7 separate regions of the Homo sapiens genome follow, and regions 1, 2, 3, 4, 5 and 7 are each linked to region 6. The links come from fine-mapping of genetic effects on plasma protein levels. Region 6 holds a variant in brackets. A gene starts in each other region. All regions are shown on their reverse strands. Distances are between the middles of the regions.

Region 1 (4,065 bases), 120 Mb after region 6:
GGGACACCAACCGCCTTCTGGGTGGCAATAATGACAGCAGCAGCTATTTCAACTGCAGCTGCTAACGGTATTTCCATATACTTAATCCCACAGGGCAGAAGTTGGCAGTAGTGTCCAGCAGCAGAAAAAAATGCTAACTGGGAATGCTGGGCTTAAGGAGTTTAGTACAGAAATGGCAAATACCCCACAATTTCTGACCTTTGTCGTCTAATAGGATACCTATCAACTAAACCCTACCTAAAACCTAAAATGCTTGAAATCCGCCTAGAAGCTTCAGTCTGATTTTGCCCATAGGTCAAATGTTAATGAACTATTATTTTCTTCCATTTCTGCTCCTCATCTTTAATCTAAAAACCACGGAGTCATGGAATGGGAAAGGCCTAGAGCTCCACTTGCTCTAGTTCTCTTTTCAAAAACCATAGCCAGAAAGCCACGAGGAAATGCAGACTTACAAACAAAATCGATTTGTTCCAAACTGGTGTGCTCTGGGGGCCTGGCCCCTCTGGGAACCCAGGACTCAGGCTCCCATGCCAGGTGTTTTGTCACTTGGCAGCCTCCTTGGACACGTCAGAGTCAGGGAGCTGGGCTTCTCGAAAGAAGTCCACTCCATCTATGGGCAGCATGCATAGCAGGGGCAATCCGCCTTAGCAAACCGCTCAGTGTTTCCTCCTAGTCAGGGATTCTCAACAGGTTTAGGGGAGGGGTAGGATGGAGGTAGGTTTTATCAGAATCACATCATTTGCACTATAGTTTGAAAGATGTAACATAAAGCTGCTGCTTTAGTACCAGCTGCCATATTTCCTTTTCTTGGAGGTTTCTAATAAATCTAAAGGAGGGTGATCTATTAAGTTTTGCAAAATGGCCTGAGGTTCCAAGAGGTAGGAGAGCCGCTGCTGACTTCAACTTCTCCGTATAGCTGAAGATGACCTCTTGAAGCCTGCAGATCCCAAATCCGGGATCTCTCTTAATGTGGCATCACACACATCTGTGTGTACCTGTCTTTTTTTCCTCCATGGGACCAGCTCTCTCCAGATCCAATGACAAGCTTCCGATTATCTGTGGATCTTCTGATACATCTCCTTGCTTGTAATCATCATTCAGTAAATGCTTTTTAAACACAGGTACCTCCTATGCAATCAGTACAGCACTCATAAAACAGATATACTCAACAAAAAGATTGAATGAAACACACACGACAACATGGTCAGGGTTTTTCTCTAGGCAGAGACAGCGCAATTTCATCTTTTCTTTTCCAAGTCTATCCTAAATTAATATACTTAGCACTGCTTTTTAAAATAATAATAAAAGACTATTATTAAAACAAAGGCACCCCAGTTGATCATAGCCAAGGAAAAAAAACGCAGCCAGTTTTTACTTCGGCAAGGTTTAGGGGATTTATCATTTTCGCTGCCGATATTCTAACTAAAAAAAGCCAACTAAACAGCCCAGAGAACGAGGCAACTTTCTGAGGCAGGCATTCAACTTCTAAGGCTCGGCCAAGTTTAGCAAATAAGTTTCGTTTCACTGCAACACCGGAATGCCCACCGCGTGCCCCCCTCCGGGCGGGGCTCGGAAACTGGCCACTGCAGTCGTGCCCTTGGGTTGGGGACGCACCTCAGCGAAACGAATCCAGCCGCACCTCCCGGCTGGCACCCGCGCGCTTTAACTCAGGGAAAACAGACCGGAACGCGCATGCGCCGCGGCGCGCCGCACCGCCCACCAGCCCTCCAGGTCACATTCTTCGAAAACCAAGGCAAGAAAGGCGGCAACTGCGCCTGCGGGTAGAGAAGCCGGAGGGGCGGGGGCGGAGCCGGAGGAAGGGGGTGGAGGCGCGCCTGCGCGGTGATCCCGCCAGCAGGAAGCAGGCGCGCGGGGGCGGGGGCGCGCGGCGGCAGGAGGCGGGGCTCTCGGGGCCGCTGCCGCCGCCGCCGCCGCGCATTGTGCAGCAGGCGGGCCCCCGCGCGGTAGGGCCCTGGACCCGCGCGGCTCCCGGGGATGGTGAGCAAGGCGCTGCTGCGCCTCGTGTCTGCCGTCAACCGCAGGAGGATGAAGCTGCTGCTGGGCATCGCCTTGCTGGCCTACGTCGCCTGTGAGTGCGCGCCCGCTGCCAGCTGGGGAGCCCCATTCATTCCCCGGCGCCGCGGTGGGCCGGGCGGCGGTGGTTCGGGGCCCCGAGGCGGCCCTGCAGCCCCGCGTTGCTCCCCGCCCCGGGCGGGGCCGGCGCTTTCTGCTCCCACCCCTTTCCACTCTTGCAGCAAAGCGGGCCAACTTGGGCGCACACCCCCTACCGCTTAGGCCCGGGCGCGGACCCCGGGCGGAGGGGCCCCTAGCAGTCCTCGGGCGGCCCCAGGTCTCTGCCTCCTGCCCGGGCGCGGGGGACTCGGCGGCGGCGCTGTCGTCCATGTCGCGCTGGGAGCCGGCGAGGGTCCCGGTCGGGGACTCCGGAGCGTGCCGCGTGGGGATACCCTTGGGGACAGCCGAGGTCGCGCCGCGGTGTCGGTTAAGTCGGATAAAAATACTGTGGCCATTGGCAGAGCCCCCGCTCCGACTGTTTGCTCCTCAGGAAAATTACTCAGCGTTTAACTCTTGGGGAGCCAAGTGTGGGCGGCTCCCCGGCCCGCGGCCGTGCCCAGGTGTCGGGGCGCACCGGCATCCCCATTCTAGGTTTTCCCCCGGGGCTCGGCGGCCGGGCGAAGCAGGCAGGCAGCTGGGTGGCCGGGCAGGGCGTGCCTGCAGCTTCTCTGTGCGCGGGTCCAGTTTCTGTCATCGCTCACAGCATGCTGCCTGGAGACAGGGCAGGAGGGGCACTTCGCAGGCAGGTGGTCGGCCCTCTGCTTGTTAGGGAAGTCAGAAACCGTCCTTTTAAAGATCTATTCGTTGGGAATGTTTTAATTGATGCTATTAATACGTTACCAAGTAGCAAAATTGGACTAGAAATAGCTCCCAGTGTGAGCTGCGTTTGAATGCTAGCCACCCAGACACACACTGAAATGAAATCACCTGCTAACCTGTTGGCGTTACCAAGATCTGATTCCAGAGGTGAGTGGGTACTTCACTTGTCTGAAGTGACTTCAGTTGAGCTCTAGGAAGGCAAGTATGAGTAGATCCAGCCTGTGTGCTACAGCCCAGCTGTTCAGGAGGTGGAGCTGGAAAACCCCAGCAGGACTCCGGGTTGCTAGGGGAGGTTTCAGGCGTCGGATGGGTGTTAGATGTGTGTAGTTTTGCAAGGGAGGAAGAACTAGTCTAAAGTGTGTGTGTGGTCAATCTTGAGTAAGAAAGCTGAGACCCAAGAGGAAAGACCATTTAAAGTTGAATAACTATTATTATGGCAGTAATACTACCTACATTTGTTGAGTGCTTAACTGTGTGAGTCATGATTCTTAGTGCCATTGTCTCAATCATTGAGCAACCCTGGGAAATCGGTACTATAATGATTCCTATTTTAGAGGTGAGGAAGTTAAGGCCAAGAGAGATTAGGAAATTTATGGATGATCACACAGATAGTAAGAGAAGGAGGGCCAAAATTTGAACCCAGAAAGGCCTGGGAGCAGGAGCTAGAACCCAGGTCTTCGAACAGCAGTTTCAATGTTTATTTTGGGGGTATTCTATAGTCGCTGCAAGGGTTTAGAATTAATAAAGTAGGGGATTTATGGAGCCATGGGAAGTTTTTTTTTTTTTTTTGAGACGGAGTCTCGCTCTGTTCAGCCCAGGCTGGAGTGCAGGGGCGCGATCTCGGCTCACTGCACGCTCCACCTCCCGGGTTCACGCCATTCTCCTGCCTCAGCCTCCCAAGTAACTGGGACTACAGGCACCCGCCACCACGCCCGGCTAATTTTTTGTATTTTTAGTAGAGACGGGGTTTCACCATGTTAGCCAGGATGGTCTCGATCTCCTGACCTCGTGATCCGCCTGCCTCGGCCTCCCAAAGTGCTGGGATTACAGGCGTAAGCCACCGCTCCCAGCAGGAAAGTTTTTTAACCAATCATTCATCTGACCAGGAAATCTTACCAAGTCCTTACTGTTGTCCCTGAATTTGGCACTAGGAGACACCATGGGGTGCTAAAA
Region 2 (4,058 bases), not on the chromosome of region 6:
ACTCTCTGCACCTCAGTTTCTTCACCTGCATCTGACGCACAGGGTTTCTGAGATACATGGCTCTGGACCTGGCTTACAAGTACTTAATGTGTCCATCTTATTATTTTTAGCAACCAGTTAGAAAAGAGTCTGTGGACCAGTTTTTCCTTGCTGTACAGCTAATTCTGAAAAGGGGAACTGGGCCTAATCCTTGGCTCTATGAGCACCCACACAGCCATGTGAGTCAACAGAACTCCAAGAAGAAACTAGAGTTCTCACATCCAAATGCTTCTCACTCCGCCAGTACTCCTGAGGATCTTATCAACAGGAAACAAAAGCACTATACCACTATAATGAAGTGTCTGACTTTTATTTTCTCATTAGAAAAGCCCAAAGATTGTAGCCCAGGGAACAGCTAAATATTTAGAATGTTAAAAAAGTTATTAAGACCCAGCCACCCACCCCCACCTACCTCTGTTACCCTGTTATTTACCATGTTCCTGAACATTTCAGGAGAAAAAACTCCTGATAGCCAAATCTGCAGCAATAGTGATGTACGTGCACCCGTTGAAACCTCCCACTCTTCAAATGCAGTCTGACCATTTTGGGGAAAAAATAGGAACTGTTGTGTTTACAGATAAATGCTGCTCTCAGCTCATATTCCACCACGGGCCCCAAAACAACAGGGACCTGCCAGATTCCTTGACACTCAGGTGGCTTGAGTCAAGGGCTGGATGCTACCACCTTAAGCTTCAATAACTCACTTCCCTTTTTAAAGTTCTAATTCTTTCAACTTGCAGCAACCACTTTCATTTCTTGCAATCCAACCTACTCTGATTAAGCACACGTTCAAAATTAGAAAAGAGTGACTATTTCTTGAAGGAGAGAGGCAGTTAATACTGCTTACACATTTTGGCATATGAAATGCACTGTATCCTTCAGAATTTAAATCATCAGCATGCTTTTCAGACCGGCAATGGGCCGCCGTTTTATTGCTCCATTTAATGGCCTTTTCCCCTCCTCTCTCATAAACTTTCAGGCTCCTTCAATTCTCAGCTACTTCCAAGAAACGGACTGTCCACTGGACCTCTGCTCCCAAAAGCCCTCACCAAAGGCAGAGGCAAATTTTGAAGACTGAGCCACGGAGTTTCTTTTTCTTTCTTACTCCCCACCTCCTTGGCGGTTTAGATAGAACTTAAAATAGGCTTAGGACAAAAACTCATTATTGACTACAGCACTCAGGCTTCCACACTCACCTGACCTGGGTCAGGCACTCTGTTGCCAAAGCAAGCCCAGCGAGGGGTGCAAATCCTGCTCCTCTGTAGTCAGCTCCTAAATATTTAGAAAGAAAGAAGACTGAGTACCAGACCGCGGAAGATGAGCTCTAACAGAAATGCTCCAAATTACAAGTTTCCACCTTCTTTAGCCTCCTTCACTGGGGACAGCCCCCCCGCCCCCAAACTTGGTAGGCAGGTTGGTGGGATCGCTTGGGCGAAGATTCCAGGTAACTACGCTTACTTATTTCCAGGATGTAACTGACAATTGAGACTAGGCACGCACAAACTTCGAACGTGCGGGAGGCTGGAACTAAGGGAAGTGTTTGGCAGATCCCAAAGCACTTGTTTCCCGGCGAGAAGGCCAAGTATCCGAAGCCCGCATCCTCATTGGACATGAGCTTCGTCCACACTTCATCCCTCACCGCTTCTCCGGTTTTCTTCCGTTTTTAAAAACCCTCCCCACGGGGGGCCCCTACACATGCATTATTCTCCCAACCACGGAGCGCAAGAGAGGGATACATTTTTAGAAAGATTATTTCCTTGAGCAGACTCACATATGACACCCCCACAACCTCTCTTCAAAAAAAAAAAAAAAAAAAGAACTATTTCCTGCAGCTGCAGCAACAGTTTCCAACTTGGGGGAATGCCACATCAGACCAGAATGGGGAGCCCCCAAAGCCACGCACTAGAGTAGAGGATATTTGTTTTTTAAGCTTCAAATGAGCTCCCCCCAAAACAACTGCCCGCAGTAAAGGAACCCCCAAATGCATGCCAAGTGCATGCACATCCATCAAGATCTCCCCGAGAGCGGGGCAAAAACTTCTGCGCCCGGGGAGCCAGTGCCAACTCCCCGCGCCCTCTGCCCGGCCCCAGCCGCTACCTTGGTGCCCGGGGAGCCACGCCGGTTTGGGGGAGCAGGGCGAGGAGAGGGGTTAGCAGCCGCTGGGTAATCCCATGTCCGCGAAGAGGGAGCTCGTTCCGTTAGGATGGAAGCGGAACACCCACACCTCCTCTCGGCGTGCGCTTTCTCTCTCTCCACCCCCTGCCTCCTCCTCCACCACCACCTCCTCCTCCTCCTCTCCTCCCACCCCAGCGAGCTTGAGGAAACGCTTCAGCAGCACATCCACATGGTTACTGCACTTTAAAGCGGCTCCGGGTGGCTTATATAGGCCGGGAAGCTCCCTGGGCAATGTAGTCCAAGTAGCGGGTCGTGGCGGCGCCTGAGGCTGCGGGGAGGGACTACAAGTCCCAGAATCCCCTGGGCGCCCGGGCTGGGCCCTAAATAGACGCGTGCGGGGACAGGGGAGGGGCGTCCTGCGAGGCTTTCAGGCTGCTGAGCCTGTTCCTTGGCTGGGGTCGGTAGGGCTTGGAGCCAGCCGTTCAAAGTCACCCCTGGGAAGCGCCCGCAACCCTTGGGGACGCCTCTCCTCCGGCTGCCCCCCTTCCCTGGAATCCAGGTGTCACTGGGGCCGGGGAGGGGCTAGGAGCTCGGATTTCTGCTTTGGGAAGTTTTTACAAGCCCACCCTCCCCCTGCCTTGGTTCCCCGAGCCAAGAATTTCAGAAATCCGGGGCACAAAAACGCCAGTGTTTGCGGTCAAGGATTAAAGGCGCGAGGTGTCTTTATTTAATCTGCTCCGCCCTGCTCGGGTTTGCACGAGAAACCAAGCCTGGGAGCGACGGTCCACGCAAGCGGAGACACAGGCAAGTCGCGTGAGAGCACTTTTCTGAGCCCGAGTTGCTTGTCTTTTATCGCCCGTGAGGAGGTAAAGAAAGGCAGACCTCTCCGGTGCACAAATAAAGGAGCCGTGTTGTGACTTGCCGGCTCTGAGATTGGGAGGCAGAAAATAAATACAAACCGCGACCTCAGTCCTGACCGTACCTCTAGCAGCCCCTCTGCTCCTGGGAGCTGTAAATGCTTAAGTAAATAAACCGCAAACCAGAAAAATAAGGGCTTAGGAAAGAGCCGCTCACACAGAGATGCGCATCCAGGCGGGGCGCTCTCCAAGAGCTCCGAATGGGGCAAGGTGGGTTTCACCCGCTGCCAAGTAATGCCTGGGCTCCCGGGCTACACGCTGCTTAGGGCTCCGGCTTTTGCAAGGAGGGGAAGAGCTAAGCCCGGAGGCAGTCAGCCGACTGCCCTGTCTTGCCTCAAATGACGTATATTCATTCCTCAAACGTTTCCTGAGTGTTTACTAGGTGCCAGGCGCTGGGGCATAGTGGTGAGCCAAACGCATTATAGCATCCCAGACAGGCACTTCCTGACGCCGCCTAAAGATCTGTTATAACAATAGTAATAATAATGATAATAATCAATGGGGAGGCTGATTTTATTGAGCCCAGACCACATGCAGTTTTCATGCGTCATGCTATTGAGTTTTACCAACTGTAGGTATATTTATTATATCTATTTGGCAGGTGCACAATCCAGGGCTCAGAGAAATCAGGTAACTTCCCAAATGACCCCTCGAGTTAAGTGGTACAGCCTGGACTCCCGTTCCAGACTCTACGTGTATGAAACCCTTGTCTTTGGGGAAATCCACCGCCATTGCCTTAAATAGCCTCTCTCCCCATTTAGGAGCAGCCTCTGAGCCCTTGGGCAAGTCATTTTCATCTCTTTGCCCCAGTTTTGCCATCTGAAGGAAATTCTTATTAGAATATGTCTACTTTTTAGCAGGATTCCTTAATATAAAATCGAGTCTCATGAAACTTTAGGAACAAATTAGAGGAGAATCATAGCTAATAGTTATTACTGACATAATAATGCCAAAACGAATCATAATTATTGACACTTATTGGGTGAA
Region 3 (4,065 bases), not on the chromosome of region 6:
ACTGAAAACTGGCACAAGGATATAATGTGCAAAATACCTCAGATTATTAACCCACTTTGAGCAAGTGTGTCCTATACTTTTCAGGGCTTCCTGAAAACTTGAAAGAGAACTTCTGTAAACTACCCCCAGTATCCTCAGAAGTCAAGAATAATTATTTACTTGAGAATGTTGAATACAACAAGAGAAAAGGGGAAGGGAAGACAAGTATATTAAAATGTCTTCAAAAATATCTTTAATATTTTATGTAAAATTTCACTGTAGGTAATTGTTTGTATTAAAAAAAAAAGTGGATCACAAGCTAATATGTCAAAGGAACAGGGAACTTTAATGGATGCACTGACATTAGGAAATGTGTGGGAATACACTGATCTGGTCAAATCTTCAGAACTCCCCAAGGCTATCTCTCTGGGCTGCTATGGTTCTTCTCCAAAAACATAGATACATACAAAAACATAGCTTCATACATGCTTGGTTGGGGTGTAAAATGGTACAATCATCTTGAAAAAATCCTTTGGCAGTGTCTAACATTTCTAAGTATTTTATCCAAGAGTAATAAAAATTGCAGGTCCACACAAAGCAGCTTTTTTCATAAGAGCCCCCAAACAAACTAGAAACAACACAAATTCCAGTAATAAGACATTTGTGATATATTAGAATATTACTCAATGATTTAAAGGAACAGACTATTGATACACACAGCAACATATTTATACATTGTGGGATATTCATACGTTTTGGTAAATTCATACCTTGGACTACGCAGGAATTAAAAGAAACAGACTATTGATGCAGTGACCTGGGCGTATCTCAAAAACAGGAAGTGTGAGAAAGAAATACTACACAGTGAATACTTTATAATTCCGTTTATATGAAATTCAAGAATAGGCAAATCTAATCTATGGTAATCGAAATGAGAAGAGTGTTTGCCCCTGGCCTAAGGATGGAAGGATTGATTTAGGAAAAAGTCTGCAGGAGCTTTCTGGAGTGATGGAAATGTTCTAACTCTTTTTTTTTTCTTCTTCTTCTTCTTTTTCTTCGTTTCGAGACGGAGTTCCACTCTGCCGCCCAGACTGGAGTGCAGTGGCGCCATCTGGGCTCACTGCAGCCTCCGCCTCCTGGGTTCAAGCCATTCTCCTGCCTCAGCCTCCCGAGGGGCTGGGACTACAGGTGCCCGCCACCACGCCCGGCTAATTTTTTGTGTTTTTAATAGAGACGGGGTTTCGCCATGTTGGCCAGGCTAGTCTCGAACTCCTGATTTCAGGTGATCCACCCGCCTTGGCCTCCCAAAGTGCTGGGATTACAGGCGCGAGCTACCGCGCCCAGCCAAAATGTTCTAATTCTTTATTGGTGGCTACACAGTTGTCAAAATTTATCAAACTGTCCACCTACGATATATTATAAGCCTGTATTAAATGTAAATTAGAACTCGATTGAAATCTGTGTGTATAAATATAAATATACACTTATTTACATTTCTAATCTAATCTGAAGGTCCATTGCAACGAATCCCGCTCCGCTCTGACCCAAGAACTCCGCACTTTCTCTCCACCAGCCTTTCAAATACCTGAACTTCATGCCTTCAAGAGGTGGATTCCGGCTTCTTTACAGCGCAATCACTAGCAGGTCATTTCCGTCTAGCTTGCAGATTTCCCATTACTGACACAAACGCTCCCTCAGGGCGTCCCCGTCTGGACTACAGGAGAAAGTTTGGGAGGCAGGTTCAACTTTTCAACTTGGCGGGGAATTCCTCTCCCTCTTACACAGTTTGCAGCGCGGGGGCGGCGGGGTGACAGTCCCCGTGCATGAATCAGCCACCCCTCAGGCTCCGCCCCGGCGGGGGTCGGCCGGACGCTCGCCCCGCATAAAGCGGGCACCCGGGCCGCCTGGAGCAGAAAGCCGCGCACCTCCTCCCGCCAGGCGCTTTCTCGGACGCCTTGCCCAGCGGGCCGCCCGACCCCCTGCACCATGGACCCCGCTCGCCCCCTGGGGCTGTCGATTCTGCTGCTTTTCCTGACGGAGGCTGCACTGGGCGATGCTGCTCAGGAGCCAACAGGTATCTGGCCGCTCCAGGAGCTTCTCTCCCCAACCGGCGGAGAGGGCGCAGCGGGCCATGGGGCCCCGTGTAGGCGCCCTCCAAGCCTCGCTTTCTCCAGGTCCCTGCCGCGCGCTCCGCTGGCAGGGGGGACTCGCTCCCAAGTTTGCACTTTCTCTGCAGAGGCCCCTCCGCTCGGAAGGGGACAGAACTCCCCGGGATGTTCTTTCCTCCTAGGAGCTACGCCTGACCACTTTCCCTCTCTTTTGCTCTCCTTCTGCCCCTTCTTCAGGAAATAACGCGGAGATCTGTCTCCTGCCCCTAGACTACGGACCCTGCCGGGCCCTACTTCTCCGTTACTACTACGACAGGTACACGCAGAGCTGCCGCCAGTTCCTGTACGGGGGCTGCGAGGGCAACGCCAACAATTTCTACACCTGGGAGGCTTGCGACGATGCTTGCTGGAGGATAGAAAGTAAGTGCCCTGCGCGCACCCAGGACTCTCGCGCTCCTTGCGCCGGCGGCTGGTAGCAGCTTCGCCAGTTTCCCACGTCTCGCTTTCTACAGGAAGTTTTAGCCTGGGTTTTCTCAAGTGTTAAGCAAACCTCATGGTTTTCAGTTTCTTAAAAGTAATCACAAATTTACAACCACTAACACATTTCCTGTCTCCCAACTGACATTGATCATAATTCAGTGCCTGTGCGGACTCAGGGAAAGATTTGTTCCCTCACCATGGGGTATAATAAATGCAAGAGAATAACGTGTTAGGTACAACGTAAGTGCTTCTCTGTATTTTTCATTAATTCCAAACCTATGATTTTTATCTCTCCTGGAGTACATCATTTCCTTCTGTCGATTATCCATCAATCTGAAATATTTTTAGTGGATTTTATTATTGAAGTGTGACTTAGCTCATTATATAACTCTACTTTTGTCCCGATACCCAAACATGTGTTGGATTAGTTGCGGGACATGGTGGAGATTCATAATACTGTTATATTTTAATTTATTTTTAATTTTTAAATTATATCGGTTAAGGCCTGTAAGAGAACATGGGGCTTTTCCATTCAAGGAACTGAGCCAGGGGAAAATGCGTATTCATGTGAATAAGCTTTGATTCACTGCATATGTACAATCAGAGAACACCCAGAGAAAACAGAGAGTCTTTCTACTGAACTTGAAAGATACATCACAGCTGAGTCAGCTCTGAATACACTGTTAGAAAAAAAAAAAGTAAATATCTGGATTCATGGGAGTATTCTGGGTATTTACTATCCCAACACTAATACAACTTCTCTCCCCCCACAAAATGTTGCTGAAAATACAGTGATGGTTTAATAAGAAGGCTACTTTTGACTAACATTGTTCTATTACCCTCCTTTTCCTAGAAGTTCCCAAAGTTTGCCGGCTGCAAGTGAGTGTGGACGACCAGTGTGAGGGGTCCACAGAAAAGTATTTCTTTAATCTAAGTTCCATGACATGTGAAAAATTCTTTTCCGGTGGGTGTCACCGGAACCGGATTGAGAACAGGTTTCCAGATGAAGCTACTTGTATGGGCTTCTGCGCACCAAAGAAAAGTAAATACGATTTTTATGGTATTTCTATTTCACTTTTTTGAAAAGACATTTGGGTGGAAAAAACTCAATTTGATGCGAAATTAACATGTGCATTTTCATGATTTCACATTACTTGACAAGTTAGTGACTTGTCAAGTTCTTAGGACTGGAAAGTGACAAAGCCATGATTCAAATTTTTGCTTTCTGCCTCTTCTGATTTGTTGTTTTTGAGACGGACTCTCGCCCTGTTGCCCAGGCTGGAGTGCAGTGGCACAATCTCGGCTCTCTGCAACCTCTGCCTCCCGGGTTCAAGCGATTCTCCTGCCTCAGCCTCCTGAGTAGCTGGGACTACAGGCGCCCGCCACCATGCCCAGCTAATTTTTTTTTTTTTCTTCTTTCTCTTTCTCTTTCTTTCTCTCCTTCCTTCCTTTCTCTCCTTTCTTTTTCTCTTTCTTTCTTTCTTTCTCTTTCCTTCCT
Region 4 (4,065 bases), not on the chromosome of region 6:
TGTGTATATGTGTGTCGGTGGGGTACGGGGGGTAGGATGAGGGATGCTTATTTGAAATTTTATTCCATAGAAATAATATCATACCTCCTATTTTTTCTTCCTAAAATAGACTAAAATACATTTTAAAGATCTTTCTACACGCTTCAGTCATTCAAGCTCCATAAGTAAGGGGAATTTGTCTTTTTAAGCACTGTTTTTCTTCAACAGAAACTTATTAGGTAAATGAATGAATAAATCAGCAAATGCCAGATTAACTTCACTCTTCTGAAACCAAGTATAACATTATATTGTTTTAATGTACCGGAAGTATCAGTCAACTACTGATAAACATTTAAAATATTTTCAGATTTTGGCTATTACTGTGCAAACATTCCTGAACATATCTGTTAAATCTTGCACATATGTGTCTGTAAGTAAATCTAAGGTAATTACTTAGCAATGTAATAGTTCAGTCAGTTGCATTTAAAATTTTGATAGATATTGCCTAACAGGTTGCATCAATTTACACTCTCACTTCAGTACAACTTCTACTCTAGGGCAACTCACAAAAACTAAACGTTAGTGACTAAAACACATATTCCTAGAAATGACATATTCTTTCATCTATAGCGTTTTAACAGAAACTGTGTCAGGTGAAATCTTGAAACACTAAAAATCCTTTGGCTCTGCTGAGCACTGGGGACATCCTTTTTCTCAAAGACAAAATGCTTGTTCCTACTGGCCGGCTTTTTGGAACTTGGCCAAAATTCACGCTAACTGCTTCTTTTGTATATTCTAATAATAAAATATAATCCTATTCTTCCATTTTTATAAAAAGTTTAATATTTGCATCCTTGTTAAATACAAATAACTATTCAAGAGCATGCAGATATCTTTGAGAAAGTTATTTATATGAAGGATACAGGTATCGGTCCTATAGAAGTGCTTGAAATCTATCACTTTGGCTCTCACATTAATTCCGCTGTCTATTGACATTAAAATAAGAAAAGTAACCTATAGACAGAAAGAAGGTTGTATTCCCATTAACATTCATGAGGGCTAAGCAGCCGAAGTCCTACATATCAAGCAGGGAATATATCCTTTGTCTGCTGATGAGAGAACGTCTCAGTGATAAATGGTTACAGACAGGGGTGTCATGAGGGCAACAACACACAGAACAATTCAGACAAACTTTTTAAAAAAGTCTTCTCCTGCAGTTTTTTTTTGTGGCGCTGGGAAGCACAGTGCCTATCCCTGCTAATAAAAGAAAACTATTGCAATGCAAAACTCCTAACCTTTGCAGAGGCACTTACCAGAAAACCAAAAACATACTCTTTGAAAAACAATTTAAAACCAAGCTTCAAAGGCTTTCTAATGTATAAATATTCAGACATTCTGAAAAGCACTGCTCTGCACCCTGCACCCCAGCTATTTGTGCCTAAAATGGATATTGTCGTAACAGTTAGCATGGTTGTCAAAGTGCAACGTCTCTAATATCAACACTGAGAGACATCAGACTCATTAAAATGCTTTACATTCATTAATTAGGTTGGTGCAAAAGTAGTTGCGGCTTTTGCCAAAGTCATACATAAATTCAAACACATTATGATACTCATTTAACACATTTGTGATAAAAATCATGTATGAAGTCATGAGTTTATTTAATAAGCTAATATTCCATAGAGTCCAATGGTGACTACCAATGACTCAGTTAATTTTCAAACCAAAATAAGTTAGATTACAATTTGTTGACTCCCTTGACTCCTCGAGCCAGGGAAAACATTTCCTGGGGCCTGACTCTAGGTGGCTCACTTCCCTCACCTAAAAACAGGAAGGGTGAGACAACCCCCTCCAACCCTCGTCCTCGGTCCCCCAAGGATTTCTCTCCAGAATTCTGCCTCTTCTGCAGCAGTCTGGAGTCTTCAGCATGAAAAGGGTAACAAACATGGCGCAATTTTCTGAAACCGTGATGTCAACAGTGTTTTTGAGGTGTCCTTTCCCACCCTAAAGAAAATTCGAGATGCACAGCAAGAAAAAAATGCAAGACAGCTCCCCGACACATCCTGAGCCACGCCTCGTCCTCAGGGTGCACCCGACAGTCTCTGCCAGCGCAGTGTGGACGCTGGACAAAGACGCAGCCAGTAGGTCGCTGGTGGTCGCGGGTTGGATCCGCTGACTTGGCCACCAAATCTTTTCCTCGGGGAGTGAAGCGGCACGGAAGGAGCGGAGTCAAGGGCGGGGCTGGGGATTGGACCCGCCCCCGGGCCCGGGGATTGGACCCGCCCCCGGGCCCCGGAGGAGTCCCTGCGCCTGCGTGCCGGGCGTGGACCTGTGGTTGGACTCCCCCGTTTTGGGCTGCCCTCCGCGTCCTCCCCCGCCCCTTCCCACCTCCGCCCACTTGACGCGATGACGCATCTCAGGTTTGCGGACGTGGCGGCGGCGTACGGCCCGGAAGGCGGAGACGTTGGCGGCAGAGGCGGAGGCGGACGGGGTCAGCCCAAAGCAGAGGCTCGGCCATGAACTTACCCGGGACAGCGGCGGCGGCGGACCTTTTGGCCATCTTCTCGCAGAGTGCTCCCTGCTAACGGGGACAGGTAAAGATGGTGGCAGGAGGTGAGGGTAGCCCGGTCCAGGAGGGCGGGGTTGAGCCCCAGCTGCGTCCTCACGGGAGGCGCTGAGCCTCGGCCACAGGTGTGGTGGGGGCTGCAGGGCCGGGCTCGGCCCGTGTGGCGGACACCCCCGAGACAGGGAAGAACTTCCAGACCAGCCCTGCCAGGCCCTCTTGTCACACTGTCGGGGAAACTGAGGCTCAGAGGAAGGACGCCTACCTGCTGGATTACCTGGGCAGCTAATTTCCCACCCAAACACAGCATTTCTCCCACGACTTTATGTTGGCGTGAAATATTCGCTGACGGCATCTTGTCACATCGTTCAAGTGTCATGCTGTGACAGAAGACTCTGAGACGTAATCTTCGCTGACGATAGCAGGGAAAGAAAAACTTGACGTGTGGAATACAGAGGGAGGAGGTAGTTAAGTTTTAAAAAACAAAATTGTCCCTGGCAGCGGATAGGGTGCCTTTGATTCTGTCCCTTTGCAGCTTTAACTTGTGCCCTGTGACCCTCTTATTGCACCTTGCTTAGTTAAAGAAGGTCAAGGCGAAACACCCAGCAGCCATTCTACAGTACGAAGGTGTTTGGGAAACCGTTTTCAGTTACAGACTGAGCTGAAGAATGCTTTAACACTGTTTTGTGGCCCCTCGTAATCTAGGTAGCACGCAGGCTTGTTCCAAGTTTCTGAAAGGGAGTTCGTGCCTTTTTCCTGCTCTAAGAGAATTAAGAGAGGTGAATAGAATTGAGCCAGATGACTTAAATATTATGTATTTTCTAATCTCTGAGTAGTAGACTGGAGTGATCGCCTGGGTCAGTCTGTTCACTTCGGTTGAAGACACAGCCAGTTCTTGATCATTCAGAATACCCAGATTTGTAACACGATAGTCAGCTGCCTGCATTTCATTATAAAGGGGAGTGGAGAGATAGTGAGACAGGTGAAGTTCTGACCTTTAAATTATATTTAGAAATATATCGTGGAGAGAGGTTGATAGAAACAAGTATCTAAAATGGCTTTGGGGCATTGCTTAGTGATTTTCAGTTAGCTGCACTACTAAGCCAATTTTGAAGTTCTAAGTACAAATTATTAGGGTGAAACTGTCTAACAAGACACATAAGTAGGTCGGTATAGCCAAGTGTAAATTGCTGTATATTAAGTCTTAACTTTTTTGATCATGGATGCCTTTTGAGAATATGAAGCAATGAAAATTCTCCCCAGAAAAATATACATATGTATAAAATTTGCCTGGAATCTACAGGATTCAAAGACATTCCCTAGGTTAAAGACACAAGATTAAAAAAAGACCTGGTTAAATGAGTGGAAATAAAACTGTTATCCTTGGAGGAAAAGATGTGGTCATGACTTCAAAACTGCTTTTGAGATATAAAATGTGATAGTTTTCTTTAGTTTCATAGCTGTCAAGTTAGGAATCCTAGTTCTTGGTAATAATGTAGCACTTCAGAGAACAGTTGAAATAA
Region 5 (4,056 bases), not on the chromosome of region 6:
CAGCCTCCCGAGTAGCTGAGATTACAGGCACGTGCCACCACGCCCAGCTAATTTTTGTATTTTTAGTAGAGACGGGGGTTTTGCCATGTTGGCCAGGCTGGTCTCGAACTACTAACCTCAGGTGATCTGCCCACGTGGGCCTCCCAAAGCCCTGGGATTACAGGCATGAGCCACCGTGCCCAGCCTTTTCTTCAGGTTCTTAAATAAAACATTGGAAAGAAATTATTATGCAATGGAAGAGAGTTTGGCCCAGGTGTAGAATACAGGAGACAGAAACAAGGTCCTTGTTGACTGTTCTATTCTCAAGTGTATAAATGTAAATTAGTATCTCAGGTTTAAATTAGGGATAAAGAGAACATAGATATATCAAAGTATTTATTAATATCTTATGTACATTTTTAACAAAGAGATTATAATAGCAGAAACAAATCTAAGCTGTGCATGTCAGCATTTCAAATATGTTTATAATTTAAATTAAGTTGATCATAATTAGCAAGCAAATTAATGGTAAGGAATGTCAGTAGTGTGATTAAACTTTGAAAAAGATATACACAGATCTCATTCTGACAATCTTGTGCATGTAATAAATAAAACCCCCAGCCAGGTACAGTGGCTCAAGCCTGTAATCCCAACACTTTAAGAAGCCAAGGCAGAGGATCACTTGAGCCCAGGAGTTTGAGACCAGCCTGGACAACATAGGTAGACCCCATCTTTACAAAACTTAAAAAATAAATTAGCTAAGCCTGGTGGTGCACGCGCCTGTAGTCTCAGCTACTTGGGAGGCTGAGATCATGCCTCTGCACTGCAGCCTGAGCGATAGAGTGAGACCCTGTCTCAGAAACAAAAACCTCCAATATGATTGATTTGGTGCAGCCAAAAATATATTTTTATATATACATATATGCAAATTAGTAAGTATAGTTTTATTTGTACTTCTATTTTAAGGCTTAATTTGCTTTAAAGGAGCTAAAATGTATCCTCACATCCCAATCTGTTTAGAAGCCATTAGGAAGTGAAAATATTTGCATTTTTTCCATTTGTTCTGCTTAGACAAATATGTAATAAAAGCATGTGTGTGTGTGTGTGTGTCTTTTTTTTTTTTTTTTGGTAAAGATAGGGTCTAGCTCTGTCGCTCAGGTTGTAGTGCAGAGAGCTCACTGCAGCCTCGAACTCCTGGGCAGAGTTCGCCTCAGCCTCTCAAAGTGATAGGATTACAGGTGTGAGCCACTGTGCTGGGACTGTGTGTGTCAATAAAAAATTTTGCTTGTTCTAGAATTAACCCAAGGTCTTCAGTACCATTAATTCACTAACAACAATTTAAAAAAAATCCTCCCTAAAGACAAAGTAGGTGGCAGTTTCAGAGTACTTTCAATATTAACATAGAGCATCTTGACCCTTAGAGCCACGAAAGAAGAAAAACTAAATTCAGTGAAATTTGCACATGATAGCAGCCCTCCTTGGTTGTTTTTTCCCTGACAGCTTCTGGGAACTGAATGAACTTAATTATGTTTTATTAATAAACTATTATTAATTTTGCATCCTGAAATAAGTGCTTGAATCAGGAATAGCATACTTCCCACTAAATTCCTTTTGCCTGAATGAAATCTTCAGATTCCCATCTATACTGCAAGGGCACTTTAAGAGCTACCACATAGGCCATAACGTTCTTGGAAAACAGGATATGCTGTCAGTTGCCTAGGTAGAGACAGGAGCTGACAAGGCAATCCTCAAGTTCCTTTCTTTTATTCTGAGAGCTGTATTCTGTGGATAGGGATTTTGTATTTTAGTGCTAACAATGTTTTTCAGTACCTAACACCATGAGTATTCAAAGGTCTGATGTTATCTTTAATGTATGTAATGAACATACAATGGTATATCTTATGAATATTACATTCATTTTCTATTCCTACAACGTTTTCAGAGGAAATATTTTTACCCTGACCTGGATTCTATCGCTATCCTAATAACTGTGGTTCAGAAAATTGTCTCACAGGCAGACAGTTTCCTAATCACGTTTTACTCAATTATTTTATTTCTCAATATGATAGGCTGTGAAGTAGTCCACTGGAAAAGGCATCATGCTGAGAGTAAGAAAAGCTTATTTGTTCACTGCTCTATCTCCAGCACCTAGAACAATGCCTGACCCAGAACAGGTGCATAGTATTTGCTGAGTGAATTCTAATCCTACTTCTGGGTAAAATTAAGTAAATTAATTAGTTCTTGAGGGACTCTGTCTAGATGACCCCTAAACTTCCATGGTAAGGTTTTGTGGTTTTTATCTTGGCTTTTCTAAATGCTCTAAAAATAGTAGTGGATGGTAACAATGCAGTGTTCAGTAAAATCAATTGGTGGAGATTGTAGATAGATGGCTCATAAGACATCAGTATTACAAATCCTATGTGTGTGCGCGTGTGGTCATACAAGGCAAAGTTAAAGTCTTTTTTTTATGACGATGATAAATTAGTCTTGTTTGGGCGACTGAACTCAAGAGGTGGTTCAAATAAATGTCATATTTTTCATTGTATCTTCAGTGCCTAGTACAGTTACTGGCTCATAGTAGGTATTCAATAAATAGTGGTTGAATTAATTGCCTTCCTTAACGTTCCGTTTAAATGCTAGACGCAGCTAGGTCTTTACCCCTCCTTAGAAAGAGATGGAGCTGTAACCAGAAATCCCTTAAAAGGTAAGGACCAGTAATCAGGCTGAGCTAAGCTCATGGGTAGTACGAGACAGGCTTAAAGCACTGAAGGAAGAAAGAAGAGAACCCAAGCGTGAGAGAAAGCAAAACAAAACAAGTAAAGAGAGGAAGAAAAACATTTCTAAAGTGGGGGTTGGCAGGAAGCCACAGCAATTACAGCAGGTCAACCCTTGTCAATAGGTGGTCACCTCAAGAACTTACCATTAAAACCCTCGGCCACACAGACCCCACTTTTAAAAGGTTATTAATTCTGACATGCCCAAGTTCATCTGAGTTCCTTAGAAAGATCAACCAGCAGCACCTACTTCACGACCTATCCTCCATTCCATTCAAATAACGCGGCCAATAGGAAAATCCTCCGCCCTGAGCCAACGACTCGGCGTAGCTGAGACAGCACGGGAGGCAGATCTGCCCTGTAGAGCCTTGCGGTTCCACTGCTGGCCTCCGGATTCCCGGGAGCCCCCAGCCCGACAGGACAACCTTCCTTCCCCGCTTCCTCCTTTCCAGGTCTGTCCCAGCCCCCGCTGCCTGGGCCACACCCGCTTCCCTCTGGTGGCCCAGCCACCACCGCCGCAGTTCGCGGGAGCGCTCTTCCTGGGGCGGGCACAGGCCCAGGGCGCATGCGCACTGGTCGAAGGGCGCCTCCCAGTCCGGATCTCGCGAAGTTACGTTAGATTGGCCGCCGGTGACGGGTGGCCGTGCTGGGGGCGGGAGGGCTTCTGTGGTAGGAAGGGAGGTCCGCTCGGCCGGGTGCGCCGCCCCAGTGCTCTGTGGGATACTGGAAGTCTCGAGCGTCGGCTCCGGGTTCCCAGCCCTCCTCTGGCCCGCACTCATAGAAACATTCACACACCCCCTGCCTCCCCTCTCTTCCCTCTCCGCCTCCCCCTTCCCCCCCTCGCGATAAGAAGACCCGGCGGCAGGAGAGGGGATGAAGATGGCGGACGCGAAGCAGAAGCGGAACGAGCAGCTGAAACGCTGGATCGGCTCCGAGACGGACCTCGAGCCTCCGGTGGTGAAGCGCCAGAAGACCAAGGTGAAGTTCGACGATGGCGCCGTCTTCCTGGCTGCTTGCTCCAGCGGCGACACGGACGAGGTCCTCAAGCTGCTGCACCGCGGCGCCGACATCAATTACGCCAATGTGGACGGACTCACTGCCCTGCACCAGGTCTGTGCGCCCCGCCGCCGGCTCTCCTGACCGTGAGGGTTCTCGTCGGCCTCCTGCTCGGGCCTGCCCTCAGTTCTCCACCTCTTGAGGCTGGGGGCGGCGGGAGACTCCCTGCTGCGGGGTGAGGGGGCGGTTTCCCCAGAGGGCGGGAGGGAGAGCTGGTGGAAGGGAGGGCGCTGGGCTTGAGGCCCCC
Region 6 (4,065 bases):
TTTCCTAAGCCCATCATCAGGGCTGTCGATGGAGTCACAGGGCTGAGCTGCTTCCCCTGGGGAGGGCAAGGCCTCTCAAGTCACCTTCCCTGAGGACCTGTGACCAGATGTGAAAGTCTGATAAAGTCACATACTAGAGACCCTTGACTCCCTCTAATAACAAAGAAATAAAGGAAATTGAAAAAAGACCACAAGTCTTAAAGGCAGCTTTAAACATGTGTTTTGATTTTTAGAAATTATAATATTTGAACATTTTGCCCTTGAGGAAATGTTAAGCTGGACTGTAGTATAGGCCTTCAAAGCCTGAAGAGAGGACCCCAGGCCTTCGTGATGATGGTGGTAAATGGGGTAACAGCAGAGGCCAGCTTCGAGTGGGGCCTCAAGAACTGTCCTAAGAACCTGAGACATAGTACTTTTTAAAATCCTTATAACAACTCTTAAAGTAAGAACTACTATTACACCGATTTTCAGATGGAGGAGCTGAGGCACACTGAAGGCTAGCACTTGTCAAAAGTCATACAGATAATTGGCAGTGGAGGTGACATTTGAACTTGGGTGGTTTGTCTTAGGAACCTGCAGGGGCCATGTATAGTGTCCTAAATCCTTTTGTTAATTTCTTATAGAATAAGAATTAATACTGTTATAAGTCAAATAATTATGAGAATGTACAATTATGCAAGCACCCTAAAACTGTAGCTATTCTTTTTGAAAGGACCAAAAATATTACATTTTTGTGTGATTGTACATTTGCAGTACAGGGAAAAAGTAAGAAATAAAAAGATCTGTCTTAAGGTACATTGGCATTTGTTTGCTGACTAAAATTTTACAGTAGGGTTTTTTTGTTGTTATTTTGAGATAGTTATATAGATTCACATGCAGTCGTAAAAAAAAAAAAGTAGTAATTCAGAGAGCTCTCGTGTACCCTTTACCTGGTTTCCTGCAAAGGCATTATCTTGCATAACTGTAGTACAGTACCACAACCAGGAAACTGACATCACACAATCCACCCACCCTATTCAGATTTCACCAGGTTTACAGGTACTCACTGGGGTGTGTGCATTTACTTCTATGCAGTTTTATCACATGTATGGACTTGTGTGGGCACCACCACAGGCAAGATACAGGACATTTCCACCACAGGGACCCCTCATGCCTCCCTTTTATCGTCACACACATCCCTTTCCCTCTCTTGTTCTCTAACTTCTGGTGACTACTGATCTATTCTCCATCTCTGCACCTTTGTCATTTCAACAATGTTATATACATGGAATTACACACTATGCATCTTTTTGAAATAGGCTTTTCCATTCAGCATAGTTCTTTGAAATCCAACCAAGTTGTTTTGTGTGTCAGTAGTTTATTTCTCTTTATTACTGAGTAGTAGTCTGTGGTGTGGATGTACCACAGTTTAGCCATTCACCTACTGAAGAACATCTGGGATGTTTCCACTTTGGGACTATTAAAAAATAAAGTTGCTGTGAACATTGGTATACAGGTTTTTATGTGAAATGATTTTCATTTCTCTCTAATAAATGTCCAGCATTGCTGGATTATACAGTTAAGTGCATGTTTAGTTTTGTAAGAAACGGCCAAACTTACATTAAAAAAAAATAAATAATAAACAGAAACTACCAAACTATTTTTTTTTTTTTTTTGAGACGGACTTTCGCTCTTGTCGCCCAGGCTGGAGTGCAATAGCACAACCTCGGCTCACTGCAACCTCCATCTCCCGGGTTCAAGCGATTCTCCTGCTTCAGCCTCCCGAGTAGCTGGGATTATAGGCACCTGCCGCGACGACTGACTAATTTTTATATTTTTAGTAGAGACAGGGTTTCACCATGTTAGTGAGGCTGGTCTTGAACTCATGACCTCGGGCTCAGGTGATCCGCCTGTCTCGGCCTCCCAAAGTGCTGGGATTACAGGCGTGAGCCACTGCACCTGACCTACCAAACTGTTTTCTAGAGCGGCTGTGCCATTTTATATTCCCACCAGCAATGTGTGAGTGATCCAGTTTCTCTGCATCCTCACCAGCAATTGGTGTTGTCACTAGTATTAGCCATTCATCTGGACATATAGTGACATCTCATTGTGGTTTTAAAAATTTGGATTTCCCCAGTGGCTAATGATGTTGAACATCTTTTAATGGACGTATTTACCATTTATACATCCTCTTTAATGGAATATCTATCCATGTCTTTTATTTCCTAATCCGATTTTTTTTTACAGTTGGGGTTTAAGAGTTTTCTGTGTAGTCTAGATACTAGTCCCTTGACAGATACGTGATTGGAGAATATTTTCTCCTAGTCTCTTCATCATCTTTGCAGGATCTTTTGCAGAGTAAAACTTTTCATTTTGATGAGGTCCAATTGATCAGTTTTTC[A/G]GTTTATCAGTTTTTCGTTTTATGAAACTCAGGCTTTTAATGTCAACTTAGGGTTTTGATTCCTGCCTGTTGTCATGCGCAGTGCCGGGTGGTGAGAAAGAGAGCCATGGAACAAGATAGACACTGGAGTGTGAATGATTCTTCCAGTTTCTGTCCGGTTGGGTTCTGCAGTATGTCTTGATGAGCTGCCTATTTGTTGGAGTCATGGACACAGAGTTGCCCTTGTCTTGCAAAGGCTGTAAGGTGATGATGGTATGAAAGGAAAAATATTTCCAGAATAATCCATGGTACCTCCCAACACAAGGTTTGTTTGCACTTGAGAGCTTCTGTCTGGAATACTCTTCCTTGCTTCCATCTCTCCGCCCCTTTGTCCAGTCACTTCCAGTCCATCCTCCAATGTCTGCCCATGTGGCCCTTCCCAGGAGCACTTCCCTGGCCACTGCCTCTCACCCTGGCCCAGGTGTGCCTCTGCTTCCATTCTTACACACTCTCCTCGATGTCAGAGCATTTGTAAAGTAAATACGTGAAAATGAAAGTAAATATCAAGTAATAAGACGATTTGATTAAGGTCTGTTTCCCCTCTAGACCAGGCTTCCCCAACCTTGGCACTACTGACATTTCGCTGGATAATTCTTTGTTGCAGGCGGCTGTCTTGTGCATTGTGGGTGCTGCTCAGCAGCACCCCTGGCCTCCCCCCACCTAGCAGATGCCACGGCACCACCCTCCCTGGCCCCCACCTACCAGATGCCATGGCACCACCCTCCCTGGCCCCCACCTAGTGGTGAAAACCAAAAAAAATGTCTTCAGATAGTGCCAAATGCTCCCTGAGCGACAGAGTCACCCAGGTGGAGAACCATGCCTTGAGACTCTGAGAGGTGGGAGGGCAGGTACCAAGCCCCTTTTCATGCCTATTCTCTCTCTAGCATCCCAGCGCCAGGCCTGGCACTGTGGTGCTTCATTAATATTTGTAGGATAAATTAAGGGATAAACCAACTTAATAGGGGACACTTGTTTACACGGCAGCCTTGGAAATGCTACCCTGACTTCAAAGGAACAAAGTGGGTTTTGTTGGGCACTTGAGACCCAGGAGAATCTAGAGTCTTCTGTATTCAGGTGGATATGGGTTTCCTTATGCAGTACCCAAGACAGCCCCCACACTGAAGAGTTATGTCAGTAGTGCCGAGATAAAGAAAGCCTGCTCTAGGGCACAAGAGAACACACATTCCCACTCTCGCCCCAGGCGCCACACAATGATCCCTCTGACTTTCCCTCTGACTTTCCTTAGTTTAGAATCAGAGTCTCCGTCTGAAGTCCTAGACTGTTTCTCATCAATGCAATGACTGCATTGATACCAATTTACCTAGTGGTTCTCCCTGGAATTTTTCTTTTTTTCTTTTTCTTTTTTTTTGAGACAGTGTCTTGATTGTTGCTCAGGCTGGAGTGCAGTGGCATGATCTTGGCTCACTTCAACCTCTGCCTCCTCGGTTCTAGTGATTCCCCTGCCTCAGCCTCTTGAGCAGCTGGGATAACAGGTGTGCGCCACCATGCCTGGCTAATTTTTGTATTTTTAGTAGAGATGGGGTTTCACTGTGTTAGCCAGGATGGTCTCGATCTCCTGACCTCAAGTGACCTACCCACCTTGGCTTCCCAAAGGGCTAGGATTACAGGCATGAGCCACCTCGCAT
Region 7 (4,065 bases), not on the chromosome of region 6:
CTCATGCCTATAATCCCAGCAGTTTGGGAGGCCAAGGAGGGTGGATCTCCTGAGGTCAGGAGTTTGAGACCAGCCTGGTCATCATGGTGAAAGCCCATCTCTACTAAAAATACAAATATTATCTAGGCGTGGTGGCAGGCGCCTGTAATCCCAGCTACTCGGGAGGCTGAGGCAGGAGAATCGCTTGAAACCAAGAGGCAGAGGTTGCAGTGAGCCAAGATCTCGCCATTGCACTCCAGCCTGGGCAACAGAGCGAGACTCTGAATCAAAAAAAAAAAAAGAAAAAGAAAAAGAAAAACAAGAATTCACCTTCCCAAAGAGTTCAGAAATTTAAAGTTTAGAATTTAATGTGGTTCTCTTAGCTTTTATCTCATTTTACATTCAGCTCCTTATTAAGTGAGATAGAGATCTCTGTGACATAAGTCTGAAAAATCCATGCCTATGGGCCACTTCTTTACTTTCTAACTTTGCACAAATAATTTTCCTGAGCTTCAGTTTCCTCATCTGTAAAATGAGAATAACAACACTACCTGCCACACCTACTTCAAAGGATCACTGCTGAAACTCACATGGGGTAAGACATATGAAATCAAACAGCAAAGCACTCTACAAATATTGGTTACTACCTCAGGTGGGGAAATATTATCAGCAGGAAAAAAAAATGGGTACAAAATAGGGTGAAAGAGTTTCTTCTACCTGAAATAGAAGGGTTGCAAACATAGTGAGAAGTAACTTTTTAAGCTATTGGCTAAATATATTTAGGGAAGTGGTCTGATATAAAGTTGAGTTATTATTTAGAAGTAGATTCTCATGCCAATACATTCACTTTGCACAGACGGCAGAAGAAGAAAAATACAAAAGATTAAGAGTGGGTGTCCGGCTCTCAGCTCACCAAAATAACTGATGAAGTTCCATTTGAGGAGAGAGGGGTAGTTAGTCATGGCAGTCAGTAGACAGAGAATATTGCTGCATTAGGTGACAGAAGTAAAGGTGTCGTTACCAAGCACAGATTATCCACAATCCATATAGTATAGCTATACATGGGGCATGGGATTTCTATAGAGCACTTTAGAAAAAAAAATAGAAAAATAGAAAAGCTATTCCATAAGTATCAAACAGAGGTAATTCAGTAACTTAGTTCTCCATAGGAAGCTCTCAGGGAGGTAGCACTGCTGAGAAGGAAGTTAAGATACCTAAAACAACGAGGTCCAGCGTGTTCTAGGAGCTGTAGCCTAGAGGCAACACAAACTGTTTTGAAGTACTACAAATCAACAAAACAAGAGGTGTGGTTTCAGACCTGCTTGTCTTTACCCAGTAAAGGGCTTTACTCTTTAAGTGATATAAGATATTCTATAACGGGGACACACAACAACTGAATTTTCTGAAAGGGCATCAAACAAATGACACTGTGCCTATGAGTGACGCGGTGTGCAGGCACGCCAACCAGACATAAGTGAAGATAACTAATCTACAGGGATAAGACCAGGGACAAAAATCACCAGTAACCATGACAACACAAGTAGGTGGAGGGAAATACAAACACTGACCAAGCAGCGGGGTGACGCTATTCCTAAGACCCTGGGGTCAGAAAAAGACTTGATTAGTGGAGGAAGCTGGCCAAGAATGAAACCGATTAGCCCAAAAGGGCAGTGTCCATGCAGAAGGAGTCGGCGGCAACACTGATACTCCCCATGGGGTGGCTCGCAGGGTCAAAGGCTCATCTGTAGGAGACTGGACGCCTCTAAGACCAAGAAAGGAGTTACCTGGTGCAGGGCTGTCAAGCCGTCCACGTTGACCGTGTTGATATCAGCACCTCTTGCCAGAAGCTTTCTCACCTCGTCGGTGTCCCCGCTAGAGCAGGCGGCCAGAAAGACAGCACCGTCCTCGAAGCGGACCCTGGGGCTCCCGCGCCTGGTCAGCGGCTGCCGCCCCGCGCCTCGTCGCTCCGCAGGCTCCTGCTCTGTCAGCGAGCCCCGCCAGCGCCGAAGCTGCTCTGCCCGCCGCATTCGCGCCGACTCTGCCCGCTTCCCTCCTAGGTGCTCCAGTTCCGCCATTGCTCCGGCCTCGGCAGCTGCTGCCAAAACTACCAACACTAAATTACTGTTGGGGCTCGAGTTGCCGCTGCCGCCTCTCTCAGAGCGCTTCAGCCCGGAGCAGAGGGCGGAGACCCTCGCGCCGCCATCTTTACTCCTCCCGCCAGTAGTACCGCCCGCACGCTCCCTCGGCTTCAATACGCAGGCGCTGCCCGGCCTCGGGTCATCACGGGACTCGTAGTAAGAGGCCTGCCCTAAGTGCACTTGGTGGCCGTAAGGGAACTACAAATCCCTGGATGCATCAGAAAAAAGGCGAGGACCGGCGGCTCTCTCTTTCGCCACGGGACCCAGTGGGGTCACCTTTGCCCTAAAGCTGGAACTGTCTCCTGGACTGGCGTCAGCCTCTTCCTCTGGGCATTTTGGGAGTTGTAGTTTATTCTTGTTATGACTAGTAACTAATCTTATCTCCCTAATTATCACATCAATTCTTTGGAGTGGAAAAAAGGCGGTAATTATTCCTGTTTTCTGGAGGAGAGAACTAAACATTAAGTACCTAAACGACTGGATTCTATATCCTAGTTCTAAGTCTAGGGTTTTATTAACATGTGTATTAATCACGGTAAATGTGAATGAGCGTGGGGAAGAGGAGCATACATACAGATACAGTATTACATGTTTTACATAAATACTGTCAACTTACTCCAGGCCCAGAAAAGATCTTGAAAATGATGCATTCAGATGTAGTGAAAAGAGTTTAAGCTGTGAATTTAAATTGAATTCACAGCCGCAGACAAATTACTTGACTTCTCTTAGCCAGTTTTCTTATGTGTAAAATGGGAATAACATCTCACAGGGTAGTCATGTGGATCAAATGAAATAATACATGCAAGGATGCCTAATACTATCTTTGGCACATATTGGATCCCAATAAATAATTTCTCTTCCTTCTCCCTCCTCCTCCTCCTCTACTCTTTTCATATACCTTAAATTTTTACAAGACAGAATAGATGTCTTCCATGATTTTTATTTCTTTTCTTTTGAGACAGAGTCTCACTCTGTCACCCAGGCTGAGTGCAATGGCGCAATCACGGCTCACTGCAGACTCAACCTCCTGGGCTCAAGCGATCCTCCCACCTCAGTCTCCCCAGTAGCTAGGACTACAGGTGCCCACCACCACACCCACTATTTTTTTATTTTTTTGTAGAGACAAGGTCTCACCATGTTGCCCAGGCTGGTCTGGAACTCTTAGACACAAGCGATCCTCCTGCCTCAGCCTCCCAAAGTGTTGGTATTACAGCCCTGAGCCACTGTACCTGTCCCATGATTTTTTTTTTCAAAGCTAGAGAAAGATACTATCAAGCATACTAAATCATACTAAATTCCTAAGGTAGCAAATAGAACATTTTTATATTCACCAAGACTGGGTTATAAAACATGTATCTGTCCGATTGTTTTGTTTTGTTTTGTTTTGTTTGAGACAGGGTCTCGCTCTGTCACCCAGGCTGGAGGGCAGTGGCATGGTCGTGGATCACTGTAGCCTCAACCTCCCAGGCTGAAGCGATCCTCCCACCTCAGCCCCCCAAGTAGCTGGGACTACAGGCCTGTGTCACTATGCCTGGCTAACTTTTGTATTTTTTGTAGAGACAGGGTTTTGCCATGTTGCTCAGGCTAGTCTTGAGCTCCTGGGCTCAAGTGTTCCACCCACCTCAGTCTCCCAAAGTGTTGGTATTACAGGCATGAGCCACCGCATCCGGCCAGTCCGATTGATTTAATAAGTATAACCTCCAGTGCTCTAGCCCTGAACAAAATACAATTAAATGTGTTACCCATAATGAAAGAGTACATATGCAAATGTTAGATTCTTTAAACGTTTCTGTATGTTTAAAATTTTTCATTTAAAAAATGTTGCAAAATGATTGGGGTATTGTAAAGGGAAACTTTATTATATTCTGTCATGTGAAAATTTGCCTGTTCCTCAATTTCCCCTGAAATGAAGTGGAAATCATACATTAAGGAAACAATTAATTATTGA

Alleles and levels. Alleles are on the strand shown, and positions count from the first base shown. The strength of an association depends on the size of the effect and on how common the allele is.
In carriers of allele A in region 6, the plasma level of the protein whose gene starts at base 1,936 in region 1 tends to be higher than with G alone (moderate association).
With allele A in place of G in region 6, the plasma level of the protein whose gene starts at base 2,394 in region 2 is higher (moderate association).
In carriers of allele A in region 6, the plasma level of the protein whose gene starts at base 1,891 in region 3 tends to be lower than with G alone (weak association).
In carriers of allele G in region 6, the plasma level of the protein whose gene starts at base 2,437 in region 4 tends to be higher than with A alone (weak association).
For the plasma level of the protein whose gene starts at base 3,461 in region 5, G is the high allele of the variant in region 6 and A is the other (moderate association).
In carriers of allele G in region 6, the plasma level of the protein whose gene starts at base 2,207 in region 7 tends to be higher than with A alone (weak association).

What was found. A credible set is the group of variants that fine-mapping cannot tell apart. PIP is the chance, under the fine-mapping model, that this variant and not a neighbour inherited with it causes the effect. Protein levels are from antibody-based Olink assays in UK Biobank. Linkage for the fine-mapping came from a reference panel and not from the study's own genotypes, which makes the PIPs less certain.
Region 1: it holds the start of UXS1, and the variant in region 6 is the best candidate, but not a certain one, in a credible set for the plasma level of the UXS1 protein (UK Biobank, PIP 0.62).
Region 2: ITPR1 starts here. The variant in region 6 is the best candidate, but not a certain one, in a credible set for the plasma level of the ITPR1 protein (UK Biobank, PIP 0.54).
Region 3: it holds the start of TFPI2, and the variant in region 6 is the best candidate, but not a certain one, in a credible set for the plasma level of the TFPI2 protein (UK Biobank, PIP 0.79).
Region 4: LYSMD3 starts here. The variant in region 6 is the best candidate, but not a certain one, in a credible set for the plasma level of the LYSMD3 protein (UK Biobank, PIP 0.79).
Region 5: PPP1R12A starts here. The variant in region 6 is the best candidate, but not a certain one, in a credible set for the plasma level of the PPP1R12A protein (UK Biobank, PIP 0.71).
Region 7: it holds the start of PPP1R12B, and the variant in region 6 is the best candidate, but not a certain one, in a credible set for the plasma level of the PPP1R12B protein (UK Biobank, PIP 0.53).

Annotation. Positions count from the first base shown.
Region 1 is chr2:106,192,172-106,196,236 of GRCh38, reverse strand. UXS1 (UDP-glucuronate decarboxylase 1) reads left to right here and starts at 1,936. Exons shown (of 15, transcript NM_001253875.2): 1 at 1,936-2,089. The coding sequence starts at 1,996. RefSeq lists a silencer at 1,854-2,463 and an enhancer at 2,794-2,843.
Region 2 is chr3:4,491,684-4,495,741 of GRCh38, reverse strand. ITPR1 (inositol 1,4,5-trisphosphate receptor type 1) reads right to left here and starts at 2,394. Exons shown (of 62, transcript NM_001378452.1): 1 at 2,137-2,394; 2 at 1,236-1,311. It overlaps ITPR1-DT (ITPR1 divergent transcript), which reads left to right and starts at 2,579. Exons shown (of 2, transcript NR_108075.1): 1 at 2,579-2,958. RefSeq lists silencers at 463-757, 2,056-2,325.
Region 3 is chr7:93,888,579-93,892,643 of GRCh38, reverse strand. TFPI2 (tissue factor pathway inhibitor 2) reads left to right here and starts at 1,891. Exons shown (of 5, transcript NM_006528.4): 1 at 1,891-2,053; 2 at 2,325-2,507; 3 at 3,421-3,609. The coding sequence starts at 1,966. TFPI2-DT (TFPI2 divergent transcript) reads right to left here and starts at 1,750. Exons shown (of 2, transcript NR_134235.1): 1 at 1,565-1,750.
Region 4 is chr5:90,527,956-90,532,020 of GRCh38, reverse strand. LYSMD3 (LysM domain containing 3) reads left to right here and starts at 2,437. Exons shown (of 3, transcript NM_198273.2): 1 at 2,437-2,573. RefSeq lists enhancers at 1,781-2,040, 2,666-3,166 and a silencer at 2,151-2,400.
Region 5 is chr12:79,934,502-79,938,557 of GRCh38, reverse strand. It overlaps PPP1R12A (protein phosphatase 1 regulatory subunit 12A), which reads left to right and starts at 3,461. Exons shown (of 25, transcript NM_002480.3): 1 at 3,461-3,863. The coding sequence starts at 3,627. It overlaps PPP1R12A-AS1 (PPP1R12A antisense RNA 1), which reads right to left and starts at 3,277. Exons shown (of 2, transcript NR_146535.1): 1 at 3,004-3,277. RefSeq lists enhancers at 2,946-3,511, 3,235-3,529, 3,576-3,875, 3,512-4,056 and a silencer at 3,956-4,045.
Region 6 is chr2:224,014,097-224,018,161 of GRCh38, reverse strand. All of the region lies in intron 1 of SERPINE2 (serpin family E member 2), which reads left to right. The region is part of intron 1 of LOC124907990 (a long non-coding RNA gene); the gene reads right to left. Among named protein-coding and RNA genes, the nearest start is that of SERPINE2, 23 kb to the left of the region's middle. RefSeq lists an enhancer at 2,575-3,074. The variant A/G (reference allele first, on the strand shown) is at 2,381.
Region 7 is chr1:202,346,841-202,350,905 of GRCh38, reverse strand. It overlaps PPP1R12B (protein phosphatase 1 regulatory subunit 12B), which reads right to left and starts at 2,207. Exons shown (of 24, transcript NM_002481.4): 1 at 1,764-2,207. The coding sequence starts at 2,054. RefSeq lists enhancers at 1,939-2,248, 1,920-2,460.